Linked DNA regions of Homo sapiens: region 2 is linked to region 1. Evidence: fine-mapped QTL for protein levels in blood plasma. A gene starts in region 1. The other region holds a variant in brackets. All regions are shown on one strand. Distances are from middle to middle.

The links. A credible set is the group of variants that fine-mapping cannot tell apart. PIP is the chance, under the fine-mapping model, that this variant and not a neighbour inherited with it causes the effect. Sun 2018 read protein levels with aptamers (SomaScan).
Region 2: its variant is the best candidate, but not a certain one, in a credible set for the plasma level of the FJX1 protein (Sun 2018, PIP 0.72).

What each region holds. Positions count from the first base shown.
Region 1 is chr11:35,606,887-35,619,380 of GRCh38, forward strand. FJX1 (four-jointed box kinase 1) reads left to right here and starts at 11,574. Exons shown (of 1, transcript NM_014344.4): 1 at 11,574-12,494. The coding sequence starts at 11,751. RefSeq lists silencers at 11,162-11,251, 11,282-11,611, 11,433-11,594, 11,692-11,761, 11,782-12,041 and 1 more and an enhancer at 11,894-12,494.
Region 2 is chr11:36,052,083-36,064,818 of GRCh38, forward strand. All of the region lies in intron 2 of LDLRAD3 (low density lipoprotein receptor class A domain containing 3), which reads left to right. LOC101928510 (a long non-coding RNA gene) reads right to left here. Exons shown (of 2, transcript NR_135064.1): 2 at 11,201-12,736. Among named protein-coding and RNA genes, the nearest start is that of MIR3973, 48 kb to the left of the region's middle. The variant G/A (reference allele first, on the strand shown) is at 5,624.

The DNA of each region.
Region 1 (12,494 bases):
TGAGTATAAATTTTGCAATCAACCTGGGCACAGTGGCTCATGCCTGTAATCCCAGGAGTGAGAGGCCAAGGTGGGAAGATCGCTTGAGCCCAGGAGTTCAAGACCAGCCTGGGCAACAAATTGAGACCACGTCTCTACAAAAAAATTAAAAACTTAGCTGGGCATGGTGGCATGTGCCTGTACTCCCAGCTACTTGAGAGGCTGAGGCTGGAGGATCCCTTGAGCCCAGGAGTTCGAGGCTGCAGTGAGCTATGATTGCTCCACTGCACTCCAGCCTGGGTGACAGAGCGAGACCCTGTCTCAAAAGAAAGCCACAAAAAACAGATTTCACAATCACACAGACAGATGTACAAAAATGTCACATTAGTACTCTCTATCTGATCATAACTCTTAACGTGAGCATCCACACATCCATTAATACTTACATATCATTCCCACAATGAGTTATAAAGTAAAAACGTATGCAGTATAAAAGTGAAAGTGCCCCCCACACACAAACATCTTCTTGGGAGTAATGCCATTAACAGGTTAGTGTGTGTCCTCCAAGACATTCTGTGCAGCTTCATGTGTGATTTTTAATATTTATTGAGTGCCTACTATATGCCAGAAACTGCATTATAACTTTTCACTTGCTCTAATCCCATAATCTCATTGAATTCTTGTAATACTTCCGCAAGGCAAGCATTAATATCCTATTTTTACAAATGAGAAAACCAAGGTGGGAAGACTTCTATAGTCCAGCTACTCTCACTTATCCTAAAAAGCCATGCAGACCTGTTGTCACCCCTAACTAAATGGCCCTCCCAATGGGGAGAGATGAAGACAAAGTTTAACATCATGCTTTGATCTGCTGACTTGATTTTGCCCTGAGTGAGAGGGGGTATCATGCACAGGAGCAGAAAAACAGGAGGAAGCTTTTTGCTTGTTACCATTTCCTGTTAACTATCTCAGAGTTGTTGTATAATCTTTTTCCCCCAAAAAAATTTCACTCAGCAAATAAGTCAATAATCAGTGATTACCTGCACTTTCTTTCTCTGACTTCTTTGGTTAGCTCTTCTGCTTATTGAAACAGGTAAGCAGAGAAAAGTATTTAAAAATAATCTCTCTCTCTTTTCCCTAACTTTTCTTGCTCATTTTCCTTCCCCACTTCCTTTCTTTCATAAGTGCTAGTAACAGAGATAGAAGAGTCCAACGCAGGCAGGTCACTTGAGGCCAGGAGTTCAAGACCAGCCTGACCAACACGGTGAAACCCTGTTTCTACCAAAAAAAAAAATACAAACATTAGCAGGGTGTGGTGGCACATGCTTGTAGTCCCAGCTACTTGGGAAGCTGAGGCATGACAATCACTTAAACCAGGGAAATGGAGGTTGCAGTGAGCCGAGATCACACCACTGCACTCCAGCCTGGGTGATGGAGCAAGACTCTGTCTCAAAAAAGAGAGAGAAAGCACCATGGAATGGGAAAGGAGTGTCTAAATATTCTAGCTTTTTAGCAATCCTTGGTTTCTTTTTTCTGTCCTCATTATTGGAGTTTTAGCAGCCATTGTAACATACAGGTAACATGCACCTGTAACTATGTGGAAAACATGAGATAGAGATAGAATCTGCAGATGTGAGTCACACTGGGCAAAGACGGAGTGTCCTGTAAAACCTCTGAGGTGAAACTCAGGTAAAGTGCATTCATGTTCTTGGTGTGTCAGGAACTAGCTGAGAACCTAGGGCTCATCACGCAACTCTCTGAAGCTCAGCTTTCTTCTTCATCAGTAGGAACAGTAACTAACCCCTGCCTTACTACCCCTCCCTAGCAGGTTGTTTTGAAAACCCAATGAGATCAGCCTGTGAAACTGCTCGGCCAAACTGCAAGGAGCTAGATAATAACCATTGTTATTCCTCAGCTTTTGTCCTGCTATTCCTCAGGCCGAGATTGTAAAATGTAGCCATTTTTTAAACTCAAGCAGCAAGAAGTGGCCTTTAAAGTTTCTTTCTTCTTTTATTCTTCAGGTGAAATGAAAGGGAAGGAGACATTCAGCATCAAGTCTCAATGTGTGGTGTGAAACAAACACACCCAGCCCCACAGAGGCATCTTCCCTGGGGCAATCTCAGAGTTTGCTCATGGGAGGGGCAAAACCAGAGGAGAAATGACAGCAGGTGTTCTTGCATTGCCATTCTTGTCCAGGCTGATCTGCTCCCCAGACAGAGACAGTGCCATTTCCAGGATTGCCAGGCCAACCCTCCTCTTTCTGGATCAATCACATCCCACTCAATAAGGTATTAATCCTGTGGAGCTTTCTGTACTGCAACGTACCTCCCAGTAAATGGGCTTGGGCTTAATCATTCAGCAGAGATGAGGATGCAGGTAGTACCTATATCAAACAGCCTTGAGAAAGACGACGTGCAGGTACTAAGGAGAGAGGCAATTCCCCTGTAAGAGTCCCCTTTGCTAATTCACCAGTGTTTCTCAGCCCCAGGAAGCCAAGTGGCATTGTAGTTAACATAACCTTGGTCTTTTGGCAGACAAGAGTTGGGGTTCCTCTTTTACCCAATAGCAGAAGTCTTCTGGTCTGAGGCTTACTCTAATGATGCTCCTTTTTCCCATGAATGAAATGGGAAAATAAGATCTTGCGGTGTTGTGGGAGGATCTTAAAGATTAAGTGCTTGGAAAACTCTCAGCACACTGCCTGACGTGTAGAAAGTATGCTGAAAATGTTAAATTGTGTCTACCAGAAATCCCTTCAGGGACCCCCCAATTTGATCCCTAGAAAAACCTTGACCTGAACTAGAAGCTGAGATCCTGAATGGATCCTGAATGGGAGTAGCCCTGTTTTACATGATGTAAGAGGAAAGTTTCACCTGTTTCCCCACACGGGCGGGAGAGAGAAAGGAAAGAGAAGACAGCTGCATGGATGAAGACCTTGCGCAGTGCAGTGACCTCTCCTCAGCGAGCCCCACCAGATCTTCAGGAAAGTCAATGAACTCATGATATCTTGGTCCAAATGCAGGCGGGGGGGTGGTTAAGGCAGTGAACTTCACACCCATGCTGATGTGTGTTGGAGCCAAAGTCACAACTGTGAAAGCAGGAAGTGGACACAGACAGAAGTTTGAGGCACAAAGCTCCAGGGACTCTCAGGAACAGGGGAAAGTCTTTGAACCTCCCTGCCACCGAGACCATACAATAGGAATACAAATAGGAATTTAGGCTAAGTCCAATTGGATCTCAAAAAAGCAGGTGGCTTCAACTGACAACAGGGTACATCATTATTATCATCATGATCATCACCATCACTGCCATCACCAACATCATCAAATGATGTTGTCTGCCTATGGAATGCAAAAAGCTGATTTTCGGCAACCAAAGCTAGGGCCCTGGAAGCTAACACATTCTTAACCAGGGCTGCATTACCTAAGAACTTCTGTTTTTTCACTCACCTGATTGTGGAAATATCAAACTACCTCTACGCTCACTATTCCCCATCAGTGAGTGTCTGTAAGTTATCCCTTGCCTTTTCCTACTCTTGCCAGCCATTTTTCAGTCCAGCAGCAATGGCTTTTCCTGGGTCTGGAAGTCTCCTGGTCTCCCACTTAGGTGACTCACTATTCCGAAGCCACTTTTCTGCACTGCAGTAAGCCCCCAGTTACAAATTACTTACCTGCTGGCCATCATTTTAATGTAAATGGATTTTAAAAAGCAGCAAAGGAATATATTTTCATTTGGAGTTAAAGCATCCATTTTTTATTTGAGTGTGAGCCTGGTCTAGGAGAGATGGCAGAAGAATGGCTCCAAGGCTAATATGGTTAATGATTATGATGGAGATCCCATGAGCAGCCGATATTTCACTTGCAACCATCTCGATCCGGGCTTTGCTGGCTGCAGTACTTTCTTTTTTTCACAGCTACTTCCATTAACACCCACCGCCTATGATAGAACCATTATGATAATATCTCTGCTTTCGGCAGCCTCAATTGGTCTTGACACATTATCACCCTAAGAGCTTAGCCACGTCGCACTAAGTCCTATTTATAATAACCCTTGGCAGGAGCTACCAAAATAAAACCTGGTACTTATGAACTACCTTTCATCTGAGGAAATCAGAAAGCTTTACAAGCTTAATTAAGCTTCAGCATCTATCTGACTGATGAGATATGTGGGGCCTTGGAAAGCTGAGGAGGCACAGAATCACTAATTGTGCACTGGATAAATCTCTGGGTGGCAACGAAGAATAGAAATCAACAAAGAAGAACGAGAGTCACCTCTTTTAGTGGGAGTGTTTGTTGAGTGAATTTTTTCAGGGTGGGTTGAGACCAACAATCATAGGTTATTGATGAAGGGGCCATGGAGGGTCTCTAATGAGGTGGCTCTCAATCTAGGGCGGGGGCCTGAGATTTACTTCTTTTGCCAAAAGAGGATTAAGCTAATTCAACACACTCAAGGGCTTTCAAGGACAAAGAAATTGAGCTCCTGAAAGATGTGGTAATCTGCCTGTGGGCACACAGCTGTTGAGCTCACACACTGTTCCCTCTACTTGGCTGAATCTCCCACCCCACCTGTAAATCTCCACTTCCCCTTCAAGACTCATCTTAACACCTGCCTCCTCGGTGAAGCCTTCCTGGACTTCCCTGGCAGAATCAGTCACTCCCTATTCTATGCTCCTGCGTGTGCTTTCTATTTCCATAATATCTACAGCAATTGATATTTATTGAGTCCTTTCTAAGTGCTTAAGGTACATTTTATCCATACAATAATGAGGCAGGTACAGTTACCATCTCCATTCTACAGATGAGTTAAGTGGTCCGGAGAGGCTAAGTGATTTTCCCAAGATGGTACAGCTCATAGGTGCAAGACTCAGCCTGGCTGCAGAGCACATGTTCCAAAACATTAAACCACACTACTTTCCCAGTAGCCCAGTTGTGATGGAAGAGATCTGTTTGTTTATAAGTCAGCCTCCTTCCTTAGTTTGTAAGCTCTGATGTGAAAGGGTATGTCATTCAGGAGAATTTGGGCTGCAAACAACAGAAACCCCAACTCAGAGTAGCTTAAACCACAGGAAATCTAGAGGAAGGGCATTTCCAGAGTTGATTAACTTGGGGGCTTGGTGACATCAGCAAGGATCCAGGTTCCTTCCATCTCTCTACTCTGCCTTCCTGATTGTGTGAACGTAGTTCCCCTTGCATTAACATGACTTCCTCAGTTCCAGGCCTCCCATCCAGCCTGAACCATGCAGAAAAGGTGCCATATCTTTCTTGTGTCTCTGTAAGAGTACAGACAACTTTTCCAGAAACCTTCCACTGGGCTTCCCCCGTAACATTCACTAGCCAGAATGGTCTCACATGCCTAAGCCTTAACCAGTCACTGCAAGGAATTGAAAGCACCATGACTGGTTCAGCCCAAACAGGATTCAGCATCCCTTAAAGGTTAAAGGCACAGAGGATGAAGGTAGAGACCTGCCAAAAAGGAGGAAGGGAAGGCGGAGGATGAAAAGAAGACAACAAACGTTCCCTGATGCAGGTGTGAAGGAAGATCTGATGCCCAATCACTTATTCCTCAGTCCTTTGGCCTTTACCATGTGGGCAACAAATGTCTGTGGAACTAAATTATAGTAGAGAAATTCATGTCTCCAAATGCCCAGTCCAGAATTCTTACCATCATACTCTGTAACCAGGACTGAAATATGTGTTGGCGACTGCTCTAAAATTTACTAAATTGATTCACCGGTGCTCCAACCTTTAGATTCGAGTCTTTAACACTAGTGTCTGCAGGAACCTTTGCAAAGCAGGTCCAAAAGAGAGCTAGGTGGAATAAAGAGAATCGTAAAAATGTGTCTCATCACAATTTACAAGGTTCTTGTCAACCATGACTTTCTTTCCAGAAACACAATGTGTTCTTAAAAGTGGGACTTGTTCAAGCAGATAGGTTCATTGCATTCAAAGACTACTCTATTTCCTGACCTCCTTCTAGCTCTCCAGTAGGATTTATCTGGAACCAGGCATCAATATACCCACCCTTGACAGCCAAGAATGTGAGAATGAGATCAGTTAAGCAATTTTTGGAAGACCCAGATCATAGTCAAATAGAGATACCAAGAAAAGGAAACTGATCCTCAAGCAGAAACATAATGTACCCTAGGGTAGAAAAGACGGGAAGGAGGGAATGGCTTAGTTCAGGCTTACTATAACAGAGCGCCATTGGCTGGGGTAGTTTAAACAACAAACATTTGAGCGGGCGCAGGGGATCACACCTGTAATCCCAGCACTCTGAGAGGCCAAGGCGGGGGGATCATTTGAGGCCAGGAGTTTGAGACCTGCCTGGCCAACATGGAGAAACCCCATCTCTACCAAAAATAAAACTAAAAATAAAAAAAATTAGCCGGACGTAATTGTGGTGGCACACACCTGTAATCCCAGCTACTCGAGAGGCTGAGGCAAGAAAATTGGCTGAGGCAAGAAAATCAGTGTAGGTTGCAGTGAGCCGAGATTGTGCCACTGTACTCCAGCCTGGGTGATAGAGCAAGACTCTGCCTCAAAAAAAAATATATAGATAGATACATAGATAGATAGATGATAGATAGATAGATAGATAGATAGATAGATAGATAGATAGAGATATCTATCTATCTATCTACATATAGAGAGAGAGAGACAGAGAGAGAGAGGTTGGGAGGTCCAGGATCAAGGTGCCAGAAGACTGGGTGTCTAGTGGGGCTACTCTTCCTTGCTCATAGGCAGCGGTATTCTTTCTGGGTCCTCACATGATGAAAACAGAGCTGGAGAGCTTACTGGGGTCTCTTTTATAAGGACACTAATCTCATTTATGAGGGCTCTACCCTCATGATTTGATCACCTCCCAAAGGCCCTACCTCCTAATGCCACCATATTGGGAGTTATGATCTCAACATATTAATTTATGGTGCAAGGAGGAACACAAACATTCAGTCCGTAACAGAGATACATACATAATAAAATTATAGCCCAGGGGGTTAGAAAACTCCCCAGGGTCAAAGAGTAGTGGCCAATGTAGGAGTCATACCACTTCCATGGAATATTATACTCATCTCTGACATCTTTTGTCCCCTCTCTTCCTTTTTGTAGAAGCACGTGGAAGGGTACATTTGGACGCCTCTGTCTTTTCCAGGGGCTTATAACTCAGGAGATCCAGAAAAGGTCAGGATTGAAGGAGGCAGACTAGTGAGAGGAAGCCAGAAGCTGTCTGCCCGAGGCTGGCTGGAGGCTCTGGGCATTTAACAAGAGTTACACTGGGAACCTTGGTAGAAGCCAGGTGGTCCAGCTCCATGGGGAAGAAATATTGCAAAATTATCAGGAAAGACACCATTTCAGGCATAAAGCAGGTGCATTGAGCTGGAACACCACTTGTATTAGGTCTCTCAAGACCAAGTGAGACTTGGTGGAGGACAGCAACAAGAGAAGGAAGACATCCCCATCTGAGCACTGAAACAGTGAAATAGAAAGGAAATAGAAAGGAAAAAGAACAACAACAGCTATACTATAGTGAACACTTAGATGCTCTTTTAAGCACTTTAAATATAAGCACTAATTTAATCATCACAATAATCTATAAGATTTGTTCCTATTACTAGTAATCATGAGATATTGTATATTGTTATAATTTTTGTTAGTAATACTAGTAATACTGTTCTTATTGCATTTTACAGATATATACACTGAGGCACAAAGGGGTTAAGTAACTTACCCGAAGTCACATGCCTGGTAAGTGGCAGGACTGGGTTTTAATGAGACAATCTGGCTTGACAGTTCACACTCTTAACCATTTCACTTGGGAACAAACCCCAGAGAACACATGAAACCAAAATTTCATCTCAGTTGAATCTATTTTGATTTAATGTAATAATTTCTGCACCTGACATTTCCCTAGCAGTTTATAATTTACAAAAGGTTTGGTCCCCATCATTTTGGAATCGCAGCCCTGCCACTTCCTTGCTGCATGACCTCATTCCACTGATTGGCTAAGCTTCCACTTCCCCATCTGTAAAGTGGGTATAATAATACTTTTGGGGGGGTTTCATGAGATAAAGCACATGCAGGGTTTAGCTCCACACCGAGCCCATAATAAGAGTTCAATAAGTGTTTGCTGCCACTGATGCTGTGGTTATTATTAATATTTCACTTGAGCTGCATGACAACCCTGTGAGTTAGGAAGGATTTATTAACTTATTTCTCAGGTTCTGAAACTGAAACTCACAGAAAGTAAATAACTAGAACAAGGAACAAGCCAGAAAGTGCTAATGCCAGACTTGGAAAATATTCCAATTCCAAGCCTCCTCCCCTGCTTCCAACCCTCAACTCCACCTCCTCTCTTTCCCCCAGGAGGCACCATTACATGAACCAGATCATTCTTCAAACAGGACTGTGGAAAAGTTTGAAGATATTGGAAGTTCAGGCTCAGGGATAAATTCTAAGGAGTATTAAGAAAGTCATAAAAGTGCAAATGGATTTCTCATCCCCAAGCAACTGCCAGAGGGCAGAAGTGACTGAGGTGATTAACTATGCTACCCCACAGAGCCAAAGTGGTTTGGCCACAGGTGGCAGGGGAGTGTCCTCAGTCCAGAAAATAAAGGAGAATGGGAGTATTTTCATCTAACAGCTAAACAGAGGCATGTTTTTAAACCCTGTCTCAAATAATCAAATACCATTCCAAAACTGCATTCCACTTTGAGGAAGGGGCAGTGTTTGTTCCTTTGGTTTTCTGTATTTCTGCATTTCAATTAATTTGTTAAAGTTTAACAAATTAATGCATCCTGTTCTGGTACATGATGCATTCAGTCCTATGGCTATAGGCAAAGGGCTGCTCAATGATAAAATTAGTCCATCTTATGAGGTGTACGATCTTAGTCAATTTATTTAAGTCTGGGTTTTTTTCATCAGTACCAGCAATATGGTTAGGAGATTCCAGGATTTCTAGTCTCTGGATTTGAAGCCAGCCCTCCCAGAATTAAAATCATGTGCTTCCCCTCACATCTATCATGCAAAACCCTCACCAATATTTTTTCTTTTTCAAATGAGTGGAAGTTCTTATTTTGTATTCTTTAATCAGCTGAACAATAACTCACAACCGTTGGACAAAATTGTTTTGCATTATTTAGTAGTAAGGTATTTAATTTAAAAAAACTTGATACATGCTACTTGCATCTCATTAGCATTCTAACGATGTATTCAGCAAATTGTTGTTGAACACACACTAAGTGCCAGGCATTGTGCCCAGGCAGCCATAAAACAATGGACAAGACAGACTCCCCAGGAAGTTTACAATGGTAGTTACTTACAGCTTTTGTTAGCAGCCAAAAAGACAGAGACCCCAACTACTTTGGATTTCTCCATATCCCCTAGGACATAGCTTGGTACACAGTAGACATTTAATAGTCTTCCGAATTTAACTTCAACAATTAATCATCCAGTTAAAAATGTCTACTTTTCTCCAATTAGATGATACTCTACTTATGCCCACTAGGTGGCGATCTTGCTTATAGTTTGCCCACGCTGAAAGAGGCTGCCTTTCAAATAAATACATATATATCCCAGTAGAAGTTAAACCAAAAGACAAAAAAATTAAATTTATTGAGTGCTTATTTAGTGTAATATACTATGTTAGGTGGTATAAGAAATAAAAAAATAAGACATAGTCCCTGCCTGCTAGGGAAAGATGAGGAGGGGCTTACATAGGCCAAAAAAATAAGACCTTTGAATGGATTAATATATTTCGATGCAACCATATGGGAGCCATAGTAATCTCATTATCAGATAAGAGTTATAAAATGGCATGGTATAGCCACCATGTGGTTGGGAACAGATTCAACAGTTCATCCAGTATGTACTTAACCACACCAGTGAAAACACTTGACTGTATCCTGGGTCAGTGCTGCAATACTCCAAATGTGGTTTTTTGATGCCTCTGCTCAGCCATAAACATAAGAGTGTCTGCTTTATCACCCTGGAACGCTCTATCACCCTAGAACGTTTTTTCTTTGGAGAATAAAACATAATCAGTGCCAACTGATGAGGTAGTCCAGTTGAAAACCCCCATGTGCACCTGATGGGAAGATGAAAGGAGAGAAAAGATACACACCATGTAAGGAAACAGATTTCAAACTCTGGCCTTTGAGAGGTGGATTCCACCATGCCCCTGATCTTGTGTCTACCCTGGGAATCTCAGTGTGGATCTGGGACTCATTCTGATACAGAGAGGTAAGGGAGGGCCGACTGGCATCCAAGTTTTCCTGGTAAATGTAACCCAGAGGTGGCTGGAAGATGTGTTGGGGTGAAGAGGTTGTTCATTTTGTTTTCTTTGCTCCTTCACCACCTCCCTCCCCCACCACCACCACCATTTCTTTTTCCCTTAAATCGTAAAAGCAGTAAATCAAATGCAGTATGGGATTGAGGTTTTTTTCCTTTCCATTTGAAAAATCCTTTTAATTGAAAAATCACATTTGGGGAACAAAGTGGTCAAATGACAGTGAATTTCAAACTTGAGAATGCTGACTTGATTAAAAAAAAAATACTGATCTTTCTTAATGGAGGGAAAATCAAGTGCATGCGGCCAGGAGACCTGAGTTTGACTTTTAGCTTCGCCCCTTGCTAATTGTGCAATCCTGAGCAACACCCATCCCTTCTCTGTGCCTCAGTTTCCTCATGGACAAAACGGTATCATTTCTTTCGAAAAGTCGTCCCTGACTCCCCTCTCCCCAACACGAGGTTGGATGGCTATAATCTCTCTTAGCAACCTGAGAGTCCCACTGGAATGTAAATTTCAGCAGCACTGGGACCCGGATCTGTGGATTTTGCTTCTGGTAAGCAGAACCAGAACTGAGGGGCAGTCGCTGTGTTGAATGGATGCATGAATGAATGGGAGATGGCCTAGGTGTTCAAGGGGCACGTGCACAGCGAGGCTTCATTCCCTGGGAGTCCGTTGGGAAAGGCAGAGCGGCCAATACTGATTGGTGCTGATGTGCGAGCTCGGAAAAGGGAGTGTCGGTTCAAAGTTGTTGGCTACAGCGGGTTCCTCTTTCCGCTGGAATCACATCCTCTGTGGCTCGGAGACATTCCCAGAGATTTACATAAAGCAGCGTGAATCACCCAGACAGAAACTGAGAAAGCAAAGGGACCCTGCCTGATCCTAGCCTGGCGGAGCTCGGAAAGAGGTGGAAATCTGTCTGAAGTTTGCAGGAGACCCGCGCTGCCTAGGCAAAGGGACCCGGCGACCAAGACACCCCCGCGAGGGCCCAGGGCGCGTCCCTCCCGCCAGGCCCCAGACTCCGGCTCTGCGCCACCCCCTCCTACGCCCCGGCGCGGGCGCAGCCAGTCCGGCTTCCTCCAGGCCCCCAAGTCCCGGACCGAGTGTGGGGCCGCCTCTCCCTCTCGGAAGGAGCCATCGCCGCTTTAAGTGGAAGAGGAGAGGAAGGGGGCGGGGGAGCGGGGGGCGGGGAGCGGAGGCGGAGGAGGGGGAGGGGGATCCCCCTGGCTCCCACGTGGTCCGGGCGCCTGTGAATCGCGCCCACCGGAGGGTCTCACAGCGAAATACAAAAGCAGCTGGGAAGCGGCGGGGACTCGAGTTCCCAGCGCCGGGCGGAGCGCCGGACAGAGCCCCGCAGCGCCCCGCGGCCGCGATGGGGCCGAAGCGCCCGAAGCCCCGGAGCCCACAAACTGCCGGGCCCGCCTCGCCGCCGGGACCCGGGTGCCTGGGCTCGGCTTGAAGCGGCGGCGGCGCACCGGCACAGCCGCGGGAGCATGGGCAGGAGGATGCGGGGCGCCGCCGCCACCGCGGGGCTCTGGCTGCTGGCGCTGGGCTCGCTGCTGGCGCTGTGGGGAGGGCTCCTGCCGCCGCGGACCGAGCTGCCCGCCTCCCGGCCGCCCGAAGACCGACTCCCACGGCGCCCGGCCCGGAGCGGCGGCCCCGCGCCCGCGCCTCGCTTCCCTCTGCCCCCGCCCCTGGCGTGGGACGCCCGCGGCGGCTCCCTGAAAACTTTCCGGGCGCTGCTCACCCTGGCGGCCGGCGCGGACGGCCCGCCCCGGCAGTCCCGGAGCGAGCCCAGGTGGCACGTGTCAGCCAGGCAGCCCCGGCCGGAGGAGAGCGCCGCGGTGCACGGGGGCGTCTTCTGGAGCCGCGGCCTGGAGGAGCAGGTGCCCCCGGGCTTTTCGGAGGCCCAGGCGGCGGCGTGGCTGGAGGCGGCTCGCGGCGCCCGGATGGTGGCCCTGGAGCGCGGGGGTTGCGGGCGCAGCTCCAACCGACTGGCCCGTTTTGCCGACGGCACCCGCGCCTGCGTGCGCTACGGCATCAACCCGGAGCAGATTCAGGGCGAGGCCCTGTCTTACTATCTGGCGCGCCTGCTGGGCCTCCAGCGCCACGTGCCGCCGCTGGCACTGGCTCGGGTGGAGGCTCGGGGCGCGCAGTGGGCGCAGGTGCAGGAGGAGCTGCGCGCTGCGCACTGGACCGAGGGCAGCGTGGTGAGCCTGACACGCTGGCTGCCCAAC
Region 2 (12,736 bases), 450 kb after region 1:
CTCACTGAGTAAGGAAGTTGGTTGGACAAATCTTACATTGCCAGCCTCTTTTGATGTCTGGGTAGGGGGAATGTTCAGCAGAGCATTCCTTCTGCTAAGTCCAGGCAGATGCATTGCAGTTAGTTTGGTGGCCTCAAAAGCAAACTGTTTTGAACAGGGAGTGCTAAGTAATGGGATGGTGACATGATATGGGTTATTGCTTTGTTTTGCTTTTAAAGTTCTTTCATGCGTATTATCTCCTAAAGAAATCAAATAGATCGCAGATGCTCTTGTTGCAATGCCCATGAGAGGAGATGACTTTATCTGAGCCAGAAATGAAATTCTCAGCAAGAGACACCTGTCTGTTGGAAATTTCAACAAATATTGCCAATAAGATTATATCCCTGTTAACAGTGGGTATCTCTGGAAGGTGGGATAATGATAATTGTTCATTTCTAACATCATCTTATTTTGGCATGGGAGGCAGTGTGTGGAGTGCTTGAAAACACACAAGCTTGACAGAGGCCAACATGGGTTTGTCCTAGTTCCTTTGCATACTGGACACATTATTTAATCTCTCTGTGCCTCAGTTTCCTTATCTGTGAAATAGGGAAATAATAAAATAGAATCTACCTCCTAGAGTTTAAATACATTTGTACCTGTTAAGTGTTTAACAGGTATTAACAATGCTTGACCCTTCTTAGTTGTTGAAAAGAATTAGCTATAGTTATTAACAATGTCATCTTTAAGTACATGCAACTGGTTGTCCTTGGACCATAAAGAAAAATTAAAGCATAAAGAGAAATGCTGCCCAGGTCCTAGAAGCTGATGTGTGAAGGGTCTAGCATATCTGTCATAAGGACCAATCAGGATTTGCTAGGACCCAGCTCTCTGATTTGAGGTCTGATTTTTTTTTTTTTTTTAAACTCTGCAGTGAGGAGTAGGACCCCTATCTGTTTTTCTAACTGTACTTCTTGGAGTGCCAAAGGGAGAAAGGAGAGCACCTGAGCCATGGGGGCTTGGAGCATGGACTCTTGTCCTTGCCGAAAACAAAGCAGCTATAAGTCTATTTTGTAAAAAATATCTATTGGGCTTGAGATTTGATTTTCACAGAGGCTTCTGTGGTAAACAGACAAAAGAGTTGATTCCTACTGGACTTGCTCTCTAAGCAGCCTTTTTTTTCTTTCTTTTTTTAAATCTCATTTTGACATCTGTGATTCCAAAGACAGCACTGTAATTGTCTTTTTTCAGAACAGAGCTCACTTCCAACTATCATAGCATGAGAGTACTCAGAAATTTATTTCTCATAATGAGCCAAAATCTCTCTGCAACTCTTTAAAGGTAGCTGTGGAGCGCCTTACGTGCTAATGAGCTCCCTGTTAATAGAAATGCTCAGGCTTTTGATGGTTTCAGCTCCCAGCTTCACTCATGACTGGCTGTGTTGTACGGCTGGGTAAGTCTCGCCACCTGTCCAAGAAATAAACATAAGGATGTATACAAAGTGCTTGGTACAGTGCCTGGTAGACATCAGCCTTGGCTGCCACTAGCAGCAGCAACACTACTGTTCTAACAATCAGAAGTGACTGGTGCACATCTGCTTGGAATCCTCTTCCCGTGACCCCAGAAGAAGAGACTTATGTTCATGGTTAAGGATAATTTTTAGATGATGCCATTAAGATCTCTCTTCAGTGCCCTTGACACTGCGAATGGGCCATGCACCATTAGGAGATGGGGCCTTTCACAGTTACTACAGGGGCTACCTGGAAACATTGTATGAGCACCTCCAAGAAGTTGTCATGTGACTCTTATAAGGAGTCACCCTAATGCTAGCAGTTAGCTATGCCCACAGACAAGGTGATGGATGGGGTTCCCTAGAGTCCATCCATCCTGCACTCTTCCCTTTGCCCTGTAGGGTATATTTCAGAAGAAAACATAAACTGTGGATTGTATAATCATCCTCTGATGCAAACCAAACTTTGGCAAGTGTAAACGATTATGAAAACAATGCATATGTGAAACACACTTTCCCTGCGCTCTCTGTTTAATATCCCAGGTTGTGTGCCAGGTTTCCCCCCCATTTTCTGCATTTCAGAAATATTTTGTTTTTCATTCCAGACAGTGGGAGTACAAAGGCAGATTTGTGTCATCACTTAATTTGTTAATTCTGCCAGGATTTTTCTCCCACCAACCGGCAATCCTTTTTGAAGTCTTATATTTAAGGCTGGCCTTGAGGAAAATTACATAGGAGCAGCATTGTATTTACCCTTTGTATGACTGCAGGGGATGTGAGTAAAATCAAAACAAAACAAGCAATTTTAAAAACAAAACAGTACCTCTGTGAGTGAATTCCAGAGTAGACCGGTATGCCATGGCCGAGCAAGGTAGAAGAGCAGCTCTTCTTGACCCTGCATGGAACCTAGAGCATGGGGTTTTACTTTACTGAGCCTTCTTTTCCTTCTAAATAGAAACATGCCCTCTGGCATCTTCCCAGAGATGCTGGCTATTTACAGGATTGACATCACCCAGTTCTTTGATTTCTCTGCTGATGGAAGAACAGAATTGTAAAACATCAACAGAAGCTGCTGCTTAAAAAGAATGAAGATGGATGGATGCATGGGTGGATGCATAGATGAATGGGTGGATGGGTGGGTGGATGGATGGATGGATGGATGGATGGAAGTATGCATGGATGCTTGGATGGATGGATGGATAGATGGATGGATGATGGGTACATGGATGGATGGATGATGTGTGGATGGATAGGTGGATGGATGGATGAATGGATGGATGGATGGATGGATGGATGAATGGATGGATGGATGCCTGGATGGATGGATGAATGGATGGATGATGGATACATGGATGCATGGATGGATGGATTGATGATGGATACACGGATGGATGGATGCATGGATGGATGGATGGATGGATGGATGGATGCATGGATGGATAGATGGTTGGATGAATGGATGGATGGATGCATGGATGGATAGATGAATGGGTGGATGGATAGATGGATGGATGGATGGATGTGTGGATGGATCACACACACACACACACACACACACACACACACACACACACACACACACACACTTGCTCTCTCAGCACTTTTAAAGGATCACTTGATTGATTCACTTTAACAGCCTCATATCCTCCCTTTCCACCTGCCCTGACCCCAATTCCTGCTTGTAATTAATTTTTCTTCTGAAGGGAAATATTCTCTCAACTTTTCTCCTTTTTGATTTGGGTCCCAAGGGGTATGAACTCTTGGAGAGTGTTATCCCTCCCTCTCTTTCTCTCTCAGCCCTTGCATAGATGCCTATTATCATCAGTTCAAGCCATGGTATCCAGATATTTTGCTTGGATTTAAAACCAGAGGCAGAAGCTAATGAAGGGCTTTCATGTTCAGAAACAGAGGGTTCCTGGCAGCCTCACTGGCTTCTCCATTTAATTCCATGGTGCTAGGGGCACTCCCACTGCTTAGCACAGCCTGGGGGACTGGCAGATGGCACTATCGGCCCAGAAGGGCCAGTCTTCCCTGGTTCAGCCATTGCCTGTGCAGCCACAGTGCCCGTGTGCAGGGTAGAAACCACAGCGCTAAAAGACACTTGCCTGTGGTCTTCCTAGTTAGTATACTTTGGTGCAAAGAATGAACTCTTGCTGTGGGTGAGCACTCTCGCTTTTCTCAGCCGTAGTTTTCTCATCTATAAAGTGGTTCTGTTATGTTACCTTCAAGCACCCTTACAACTACAGACCTCTGTAATTTTCAATGGAATGTTCTCTTCCTTGTGAAAATACAGAATGTTTTTCTTGCAGGTGGACCTGCACATGTAGGAATGAGTTTGGGTAGCTTTAAGGTTATGCAAAATGGTAGAGACTCTAAGTGAGCATGTAGTGTAGGGGTTCTGGGGTCAGACAGCTTGCCCTTTTTTTTTTTTTTTTTTTTTTGAGACAAGAGTCTTGCTCTGTCACCCAGGCCGGAGTGCAGTGGCATGATCTCAGCTCACTGCAGCCTCTGCCTCCCAGGTTCAAGCAATTCTCCTGCCTCAGCCTCCTGAGTAGCTGAGATTACAGTCATGCGCCACTACGCCCGGCTAATTTTGTATTTTTAGTAGAGACAGGGTTTCACCATGTTGGTCAGGCTGGTCTCGAACTCCTGACTTTGTGATCCACCCGCCGCGGCCTCCCAAAGTGCTGGGTTTACAGGTGTGAGCCACCGCACCTGGCTGACAGCCTGCCTTTAAACAGCAACTGAATTTTATATAATAGGCACTGTGCCCAATGCTCTGCATGGATGATCTCATTCAGTCCTCACATCACCTAAGTTCTGCTAGTATCCCCATTATACAGTTGGAGAGTTGAGGCTTAGAGAAGTTAAGTAACTGGCTGAGGCACTTGGGTGGCCTAGCCAAGTTTTGAAAGCAGACATTCTGGCTTGAGTTGAGCCACTGAACCACTCTGCTGTGCTGCCCCCTGTGGGTAAGTGCACACCACGGCAGGTCTGTATGGAGGAGGTTTTCAGGATTCACTTGGAGCTCTCGGAATGCATAAAGTGCAATACTTTCCCATTGCCGCAAAAAGATATTGCATTTTAAATGTCTGAAATCATGATTGACTTAGCTCCTCAGCCCTGAAGGGTGCAGCAGTGGCTTGAAGCATCAGAACCTTGAAGGAGATTTCTTTGAGGAACACTTTGCTATCTCCTGTTAAAATTAGCAGCAAGCATTCTCAGGGCACTCTCCACTAAATATGTCTGGCAGGAGGGTACACGATACCTCTCCCTTCACTCCCCAAATCCTCCCTGTATTGCAGTCCAGAGCTTTTCAAACTTTATATGCATTCAAAAGGCATGGGGGTCTTGGTAAAATGCAGAGTCTGGCTCAGTAGGTATGTGGGGTAAGGCTGATTGAATTTCAAACAACCCCCCAGGTGACTGTTGATGCACTGGTCTGAGGTCTACACTTTGAGCCACAAGGGTCTAGAGTTTATGATTTTCAGGGAGCTAAGCTGGCTGTATCAGAATGACCTGGAGTCTTCAGTAAGCAGCTTCCCAGGACCTTTCTGGGATATTCTCAATCAGGAGGCCTAGGATAGACTCAGGAAACTGCCAGTGTCCCAGGAACCACACTATGAGAAACGCCGCCTCACTCAGTGGTTCCTGTGATCGTCAGGGTCCCTGGTGGATTGAGGCCAACTTGGGAAACATTGATTATTGGGTTTGGGATGGGGCCAGAAGCCCACTTGTATCCTGTTTCGCCGGGGGAGCCTAATCTACACTCAAGTTTGTGAATTCCTCGCAGTAATTACTTCTTTACCTCCTCATCTTTCGTCTGTCCCTTGGCCCCAAACTCTTCCTCAAGCTAGTGTCCCACTGGCTCTTGTTCCTTCTCCTTTGTTGTAGCCAGTGTGTGACTCCTTGGCCCTCTGCACCTGGCTTTTGCATCCTCCACAGTAATGTTTTGCTCCAAGAATCTCTTAGTTGTCAGATCCAGCAAATGTTGAAATACGCTATTACTTGGCCTTGAAGCGGTACTGGACACTGCAGACTGCCTCTTCGTCTTCTCTCCTTTGTTTGCTGAGATTCTGCCCACTATCTCTTGGCTGCCCTTCTACCTTCTTGGTCTTCCTCCCTGGATCGTCA[G/A]TTGCCTGGAAATGAATTCTGACCTTTCCATCTAATACATTTTCCCTTGCTCATTTATTTCCATAAACTAGTGATCCTCAGATATTTTTATTTCCTGAATGATTGTCCGAAACCACACATTTGCGTCACCATTTCCTTGCTTAACGTGGACTCTGGAGCCAGCTGGTCTGGGTTCACATCCTGGCTCTGCCACTTGTCAGCCAAGAAATCTTGTGCAAGTCACTGAGTTCTTTAGGTTGCAGTTTTCTCATCTGGAGGAGGGATGAAGTACCTCATCTCAGTGGAGCGCCCAGCACTGGGGTTGATGCCCTCTGAGCACTCAGGAGATGTCTCTTTGATTTTCCTTTAATCATTAGTAATAAGTAGTAGGAATAATAACAACAACCCTCCAGTGGCTCCCAGATTGCACATGAAATCAAGTGTGTCTTAGAGAGCCCTCCTGGCTGGTCCCTCCTGTCTCTTCAGCAGCAGCTCCTTCCCTCCTGCTCTCCGCCCGCCAGCTCTGTCTCACACCCTGGTGCTGTGGCACATGCCATTTCCCTCTGTGCCTCTGTCTTCCAGGCACAACACTGGAATCTCACTGGAGCACTCACACCACTTCCCCCAGAAGCAAAGAGCCACGTCTTCCTTCACGCTTCTGGTCAGTCTTGGGGGTTTTTCTGAAGCATATGACCTACTTTATCAACTCCATTTGCTTATAGGTCTGCGTCTCTGTCAGATTGCGAGCTCTTTAAGTTATGCTTGCATCCCTGGCATCGGGTTTGGCTGACACTCATTGTGGACTGTTTGAATGAATGAATGATTTAGTGGCACTGCAAATCAAAACCCAGTCCACTGGTATAGAGGGAGAGCCCTCTGAATGTCTGAGATGATCTTACCTTGTTACATACAAAAACTTAGAAATCCTTCTTGAGTCCTCTGTTTTAGTAATTGCCCACTCTCCCTATTCTAATCCATTAGCAAGCCCAGTCAACTCTACTTCTAAAGCAGTGGGTCTCAGTCAGAGGTGATTTTAACCCTCATAGTCATTTGGCAATGTATAGAGACATTTTTGATGGTCACAATTGGGGTTGCAGCTGGTGTATATGGATAGAGGCTAGGAAAGATGTGAAACACCTTACAATGTATAGGACAGTCACCTCAACAAAGAATTATCCAGCTTTAGTGTGAAGAGTGCTGAGGTTGAGGAACCCTGATTTAGAGGATACTGAGTTCATTCACAGCTCTCTGTCTTCCCCACTCCTGTGCTAGTGTAAGGCACTGTTGTCACTCCCTGGACTGGTCTTCCTGCTTCCTTTACCTCCCTCTGTGCCTCCCTCTGTGCTCTCAGAGCATTTCTCACAGGGCAGCTGAGTGGTCTTTTATAAAGGATAAATCAGGCCAGGTACAGTGGCTCACACTTGTAATCCCAGCATTTTGGGAGGCTAAGGTAAGAGGACCACTTGAGCCGAGGAATTCAAGACCAGCCTGGGAAACATAGTGAGACATTGTCTCTACAGAAAATGAGAAAATTAGCTGGTCAGTAATTCATGCCTGTAGTTCCAGCTACTCAGGAGGCTGGGGCACACTTGAGCATGAGAGGTTGAGGCAGCAGTGAGCCATGATTGTACCACTGCACACAAACTTGAGCAACAGAGTGAAACCCTGTCTCAGAAAAAAAAAAAAAAAAGATAAGGTCACTCCCCTGTAATGACTTCTCATCACAGCTAGAATTCTGAACTCAAACTCCTTAGCCAGGCTGAAGAAGCCCTACCTGACCTGGCTCCTGCTGACCTCTCTGATTCATTGTACCCTCCCCTGCCATCCCTGGGCACTCTGCTTCAGCCCCACTCCACAACCCTTCTTTCTGTTTCAAGTTCTTCCCAGGCTTTAGGTATGTTCTTGAGATGTTGCCTCTGCCTGGCTGCTGTCCCCTCTTACCCTTGGTTGGCTGACTTCTTGTCTTCTAAACCTCTCTGGAACTGCTTCTGCCTTAGATATTCCTTTCCTCAACACCCAAACTACTTGTACGGTTGCCGACTATCACATCTCCGTACATCACCACCTAGCACTTAGCACTGCCTGATTTGTTTTTTGTTTTTTCTTTTTCATCCTCCCCTGACTAGAGCACCATTGAGAGTGAGACCTCCCCTGCCTTGTGAAAGGCTCTATCCACCCATGCTTAGCACAATGCCTAGCACATAGCCAGTTATCAATAGACAGTGATGGGAATAGGAGGGATAGTAATAGTTTACACTTATGTAATGGAGACTAAAAAGTCTAAGTGCTTTACATTTAATCTCCAAAGTAGTTTTGCGAGATGGGTATCATGATTGGCATCTTCATTTTACAGATAAGGAAATGGAGGCATCAGAAGTTATATAACTCAGCTGGGTGAGGTGGCTCATGCCTGTAATCCCAGCACTTTGGGAGGCCAAGGCAGGTGGATCACGAGGTCAGGTGATTGAGACCATCCTGGGTAACACTGTGACATTCCATCTCTACTAAAAATACAAAAAACTAGCTGGGCATGGTGGTGGGCACCTGTAATCCCAGCTACTCGGGAGGCTGAGACAGGAGAATGGCGTGAACCCGGGAGGCGGAGCTTGCAGTGAGCTGAGATTGCGCCACTGCACTCCAGCCTGGGCGACAGAGCAAGACTCTGTCTCAAAAAAAAAAAAAAAAAAAAAGTTATATAACTCACAATCAAAGATCATGTAGCCATGTAGCTAGAAAGTTGCAGAGCTGGGGTTTAACTTAAGTGGTCCAACTCCAGAGTTGTTGCTCTTAATCACCCCACCACAGTGCTTGTTGAGGAAATGAATGTGGAATTTGAATGATGAATTCACACTCATCCTTCCTTAGGGTAGCCTTTGTAGGATTGGGATTCAGTCTGATCTGGGTTCAAATTTTGTAACTGACTCACATTTTATGATTTACTTGCTTGTGTGATGGGGTTATGGTGTGGGAGCACCAAAAATCTCTTGTCTTATAAAGAGTTCACTTCTAATGTTCTGGATACTTCTCTCCATCCTCACTATTGATCATGCTTCCTTTGTTGTTTTGGTCACAAGGAAACTCAACTAAAATTTGAGCCCTGATACTAGTAATCATATAATAGTTTGTGGAATGCTTTTGTCTATTACCTTTCTTTTCTGCTTTTCCTTATAACATCCCATTTTCCACATTTTAAACTATTTATTTATCTCAGCCAACTCAATTTATGAAAATATGAATTTATAACAGATAAATATGTATATAAAAGTGTGTCCCTGGACAGGTTACCTAACCACTGTGATGCTTCCTGTCTTCTGTGCAGTGTTGGTAATCATTCCTGCCTCACAGTTTTTTGGTGGAGCCTAAGTGGGGTAAAGTCCACGAAAGCCCAGAACACACAATAAACATTTAGTAAGAGTGTCTTCTTCCTCTTCCTCATTTACGGTAAAGATGAGGAAATCTTTTTTTTTCCCCTGAGACAGAGTCTCGCTCTGTTGCCCAGGCTGTGATGCAGTGGTGCAATCTCGGCTCACTGCAACCTCCGCCTGCTGAGTTCCAGTGATTCTTCTGCCTCAGCCTCCTGAGTAGCTGGGACTGCAGGCACGTGGCACTACGTCTGGCTAATTTTTGTATTTTTTTAGTAGAGACGGGGTTTCACCATGTTGGTCAGGCTGGTCTCGAACTTCTGACCTCAAGTGATCTGCCTGCCTTGGCCTCCCAAAGCGCTGGGATTACAGGTGTGAGCCACTGTGCCTGGCCAAGCATGAAGCAATCTTGTGCTGGTACCTGGCATAGTGGAGGTGATAGAAGGTGGTTTAATATGTCTTACTGAGCTGCTAAGCAGCAGCTGCATGTCTTATTGAGCTGCTAATTGATACTACTAACTGGGGAGCTCCATTACAAAAACCCACAATAAATGATAGGCTGTCATCATGCCCTGTTTTGGGCGGCTCTTTTCACTATAATAAATTGGTTTTTGAGCAGCAGAAAGATAATAGGTTTAGTAAGTAGAAAAGACTCGACCACAGGGGGCTTGTGCATAAAGCTCAGCCTGGAAAATGGAAAGCATTTATCAGTAAGACCCACAGAAACTTTTATTACTATGGCAACTGGGTCTTTGGTAAGTCTCTCTTTAGCTAGATTATAATGTAGTAGTGAGGAATATCAACTGTATGTTTCAATTGCTTATTAGCTCATAAAATTGCCAGTTTGCATATTAATTGTTACTGGATAAAATAGCCCTATTTTTAGGTGACCCAGTCACCCATTTTCTGATACCAAGCCACTTTGGGAACTTAAAAAAAAAAAAACAGTAGTTATAGTAATAAAAACTCTTAGCCTTAGACAGGCATCTTCTCATTTAATCCTCCCAGCTACTCTGTAAGGTCAGTTTCATCTCCCATTTTACAGATGAGAGAGGAAAAGCCCAGGGCAGTTAGGTAACTTGTCCAAGGTCACGGTTCTGGTAAGGTGTAGATCCAGGATTTGAATCCATGTCTGTTTGATTTCTATGATAAAAATAACTTTATAGTCTTAACCATTAATATGGGCTATAGCCCATATGATATAGAATATAAAGTTTCTGTAAATCTGAAAAGGCAAAAAATCCAAGAGTATTGACCTTTCCCTAGTACAGGGTTGGTTCTTCAACCTCAAAAGTATTGACATTTTGGGGCCAGGTAAGTCTTTCTTTTTGTTACTGAAACACCAGGGGTTCGGTCTAGGTCCTGTTACTCGACACACAGAAAGCCAATCACTGACACGACGATTATTGCCAAGGAAGAAGCCTTTAATTAGGTGCTGCAGCTTAGGAGATGGGAGCTCAGTCAGTCTCAAATCCATCTCCCTGACTGACATGGTTTGGCTGTGTCCCCACCCAAATCTCATCTTGAATTGTAGTTCCCATAATCCCCACGTCATGGGAGGGACCTGGTGGGAAGTAATTTAATCATGGGGGTGGTTACCTTCATGCTGTTCTCATGACAGTGAGTGAGTTCTCATGAAATCTGATGGTTTTATAAGGGGCTTTTCCCCCATTTGCTTGGCACTTCTCGCTGCCGCCATGTGAAGAAGCACGTGTTTGCTTACCCTTCCACCACGATTGTAAGTTTCCTGAGGCCTCCCCAGCCATGCTGAACTGTGAGTCAATTAAACCTCTTTCCTTTATAAATTACCCAGTCTTGGGTATGTCTTTAGGTGTATCTTTATTAGAAGGGACTAATACGTTGACCCACTAAAACTAGCTTTGTATAGCAGGGAAGAAATGTAACAATGTGTAAGAAAACAGGAACTGGGAAAGGGCAAGGAAACGATTATGATGAATAGAGAGTCTCTGCATTTCATTGTCTGGATGTGGTGATCTGGTGAGTTTCAGCTCTTTGATACTTTTTTGAGAGGCCTGAAAGTCCTTCCCTGAGGAAGGAACTGAAATAAAACAAATGTAAACTTCAAACTTAAGACCAGAAGGGTTATCCACACCCACCCCACTACATCCCCCAGTATTGCCTAACTTTGCCTGGGGAGGAATTGGCTAATTAGGACTTTCCTGGAAAAAAGCAACTCTTTCATTTCTGATGTCACCAGTCTTCTTAGATCTCAGGATTTACCAGAAAGTTTTGTTCTTTATTTGGTTATGTTCAGAGAGCTGTGCAATTTATTGCGACTATCTAATTTTAGAACATTTTAATCACCCCAGGAAGAAACCATGTACCCATTAGCAGTCATTCCCCATTCTTCCCTCTCTTAGTCCCTGGGAACCACTAATCCACTTTTTGTCTCTACAGATTTGCCTATTCTGGACATTTCATATAATGGAATCATACAGTATGTGGCCTTTTGTGTCTAGCTTCTTTGACTTAGAATAATGTTTTCAAGGTTCATCTGTGTTGTATCATGTATCAGTACTTCATTCCATTATATGGAATATAGGAGTCCAGTTTCGTTCTTTTATATGTGAATTTCCAGTTGTTTCAGCCATTTGTTGAAAAGACTATCCAGTGAATTTTCTTGGCACTCTTGTCAAAAATCAATTGACTAGAAAAGTAAAGGTTTGTTTCTAGACACTCAATTTTATTTTATTGATCCATATGTGTACCCTTATGCCAATAACCACAGTGTCTTAATTACTCTAGCTTTGTGTAGTACATTTTTAAATTGAGAACTGTTAGTCCTCTAATTTTGTTCTTCTTTTTCAATATGGTTTTGGCTATTCAGAGTCCCTTGAATCTCCATATGAATTTATGATCAGCTTGTCCATTCTGCCAAGAAGCTAGCTGAGATTTTAGTATAAGGGTTCCATAGACTCTGTGGATCAATTTGGGGAGTATTGCCATCTTACCCAATTTTAAGTCTTTCAATTTTTGAACATGGTTTGGCTTTCTGTTTACTTAGGTCTTCTTTATTTCAGTGATGTGTTGTAGTTTTCAGTGTACAAGTCTTACACTTCTTTTGTTAAAATTATTCCTAAGTATTTTATTATTTTTGATACTATTGGAAATGGAATTGTTTTCATAATTTCATTTTTGGATTGCTGATTGCTAGTGTATACAAATACAATTGATTTTGGTGTATCCACCTTGTCTCCTGCAACCTTGCTAAACTTGTTCGTTAGTTCTAATAGTTTTTTTTAAAAAATTTTTGAGACAGGATCTCACTCTGTTGCCCAGGCTAGAGTGCAGGAGTGCAGTGGTGTGATCACAGCTCACTGCAGCCTTGACCTCCCAGGCTCAAGTGATACTCCTGCCTCAGCCTCCCAAATAGCTGGACTACAGGTGCAGGCCACCACACCTGGCTAATTAATTTTTTTTTTTTTTTTTTTTTGTAGAGATGGGGTTTTGCCATGTTGCCCAGGCTGGTCTCCAGCTCCTGGGCTCAAGTGATCTGCCCTTCTTAGCCTCCCAAAGTGCTGGGATTACAGGCATGAGCTACCACTCTTGGCTAGTTCTAATAGTTTTTTTGTGTATGAGTTTGAAATCGTTCTTGTTTTCTAATGTAGGCATTTACAGCTATAACTTTCACTCTCAGCCTTGTTTTGGTATATTGTGCTTTTGTTTTCATTCATCTCAAATTATTTTTTAATTTTATTTTTGATCTTCCGACCCATTGGTTATTTAGGAGTGTGTTAATTTCCACATACTT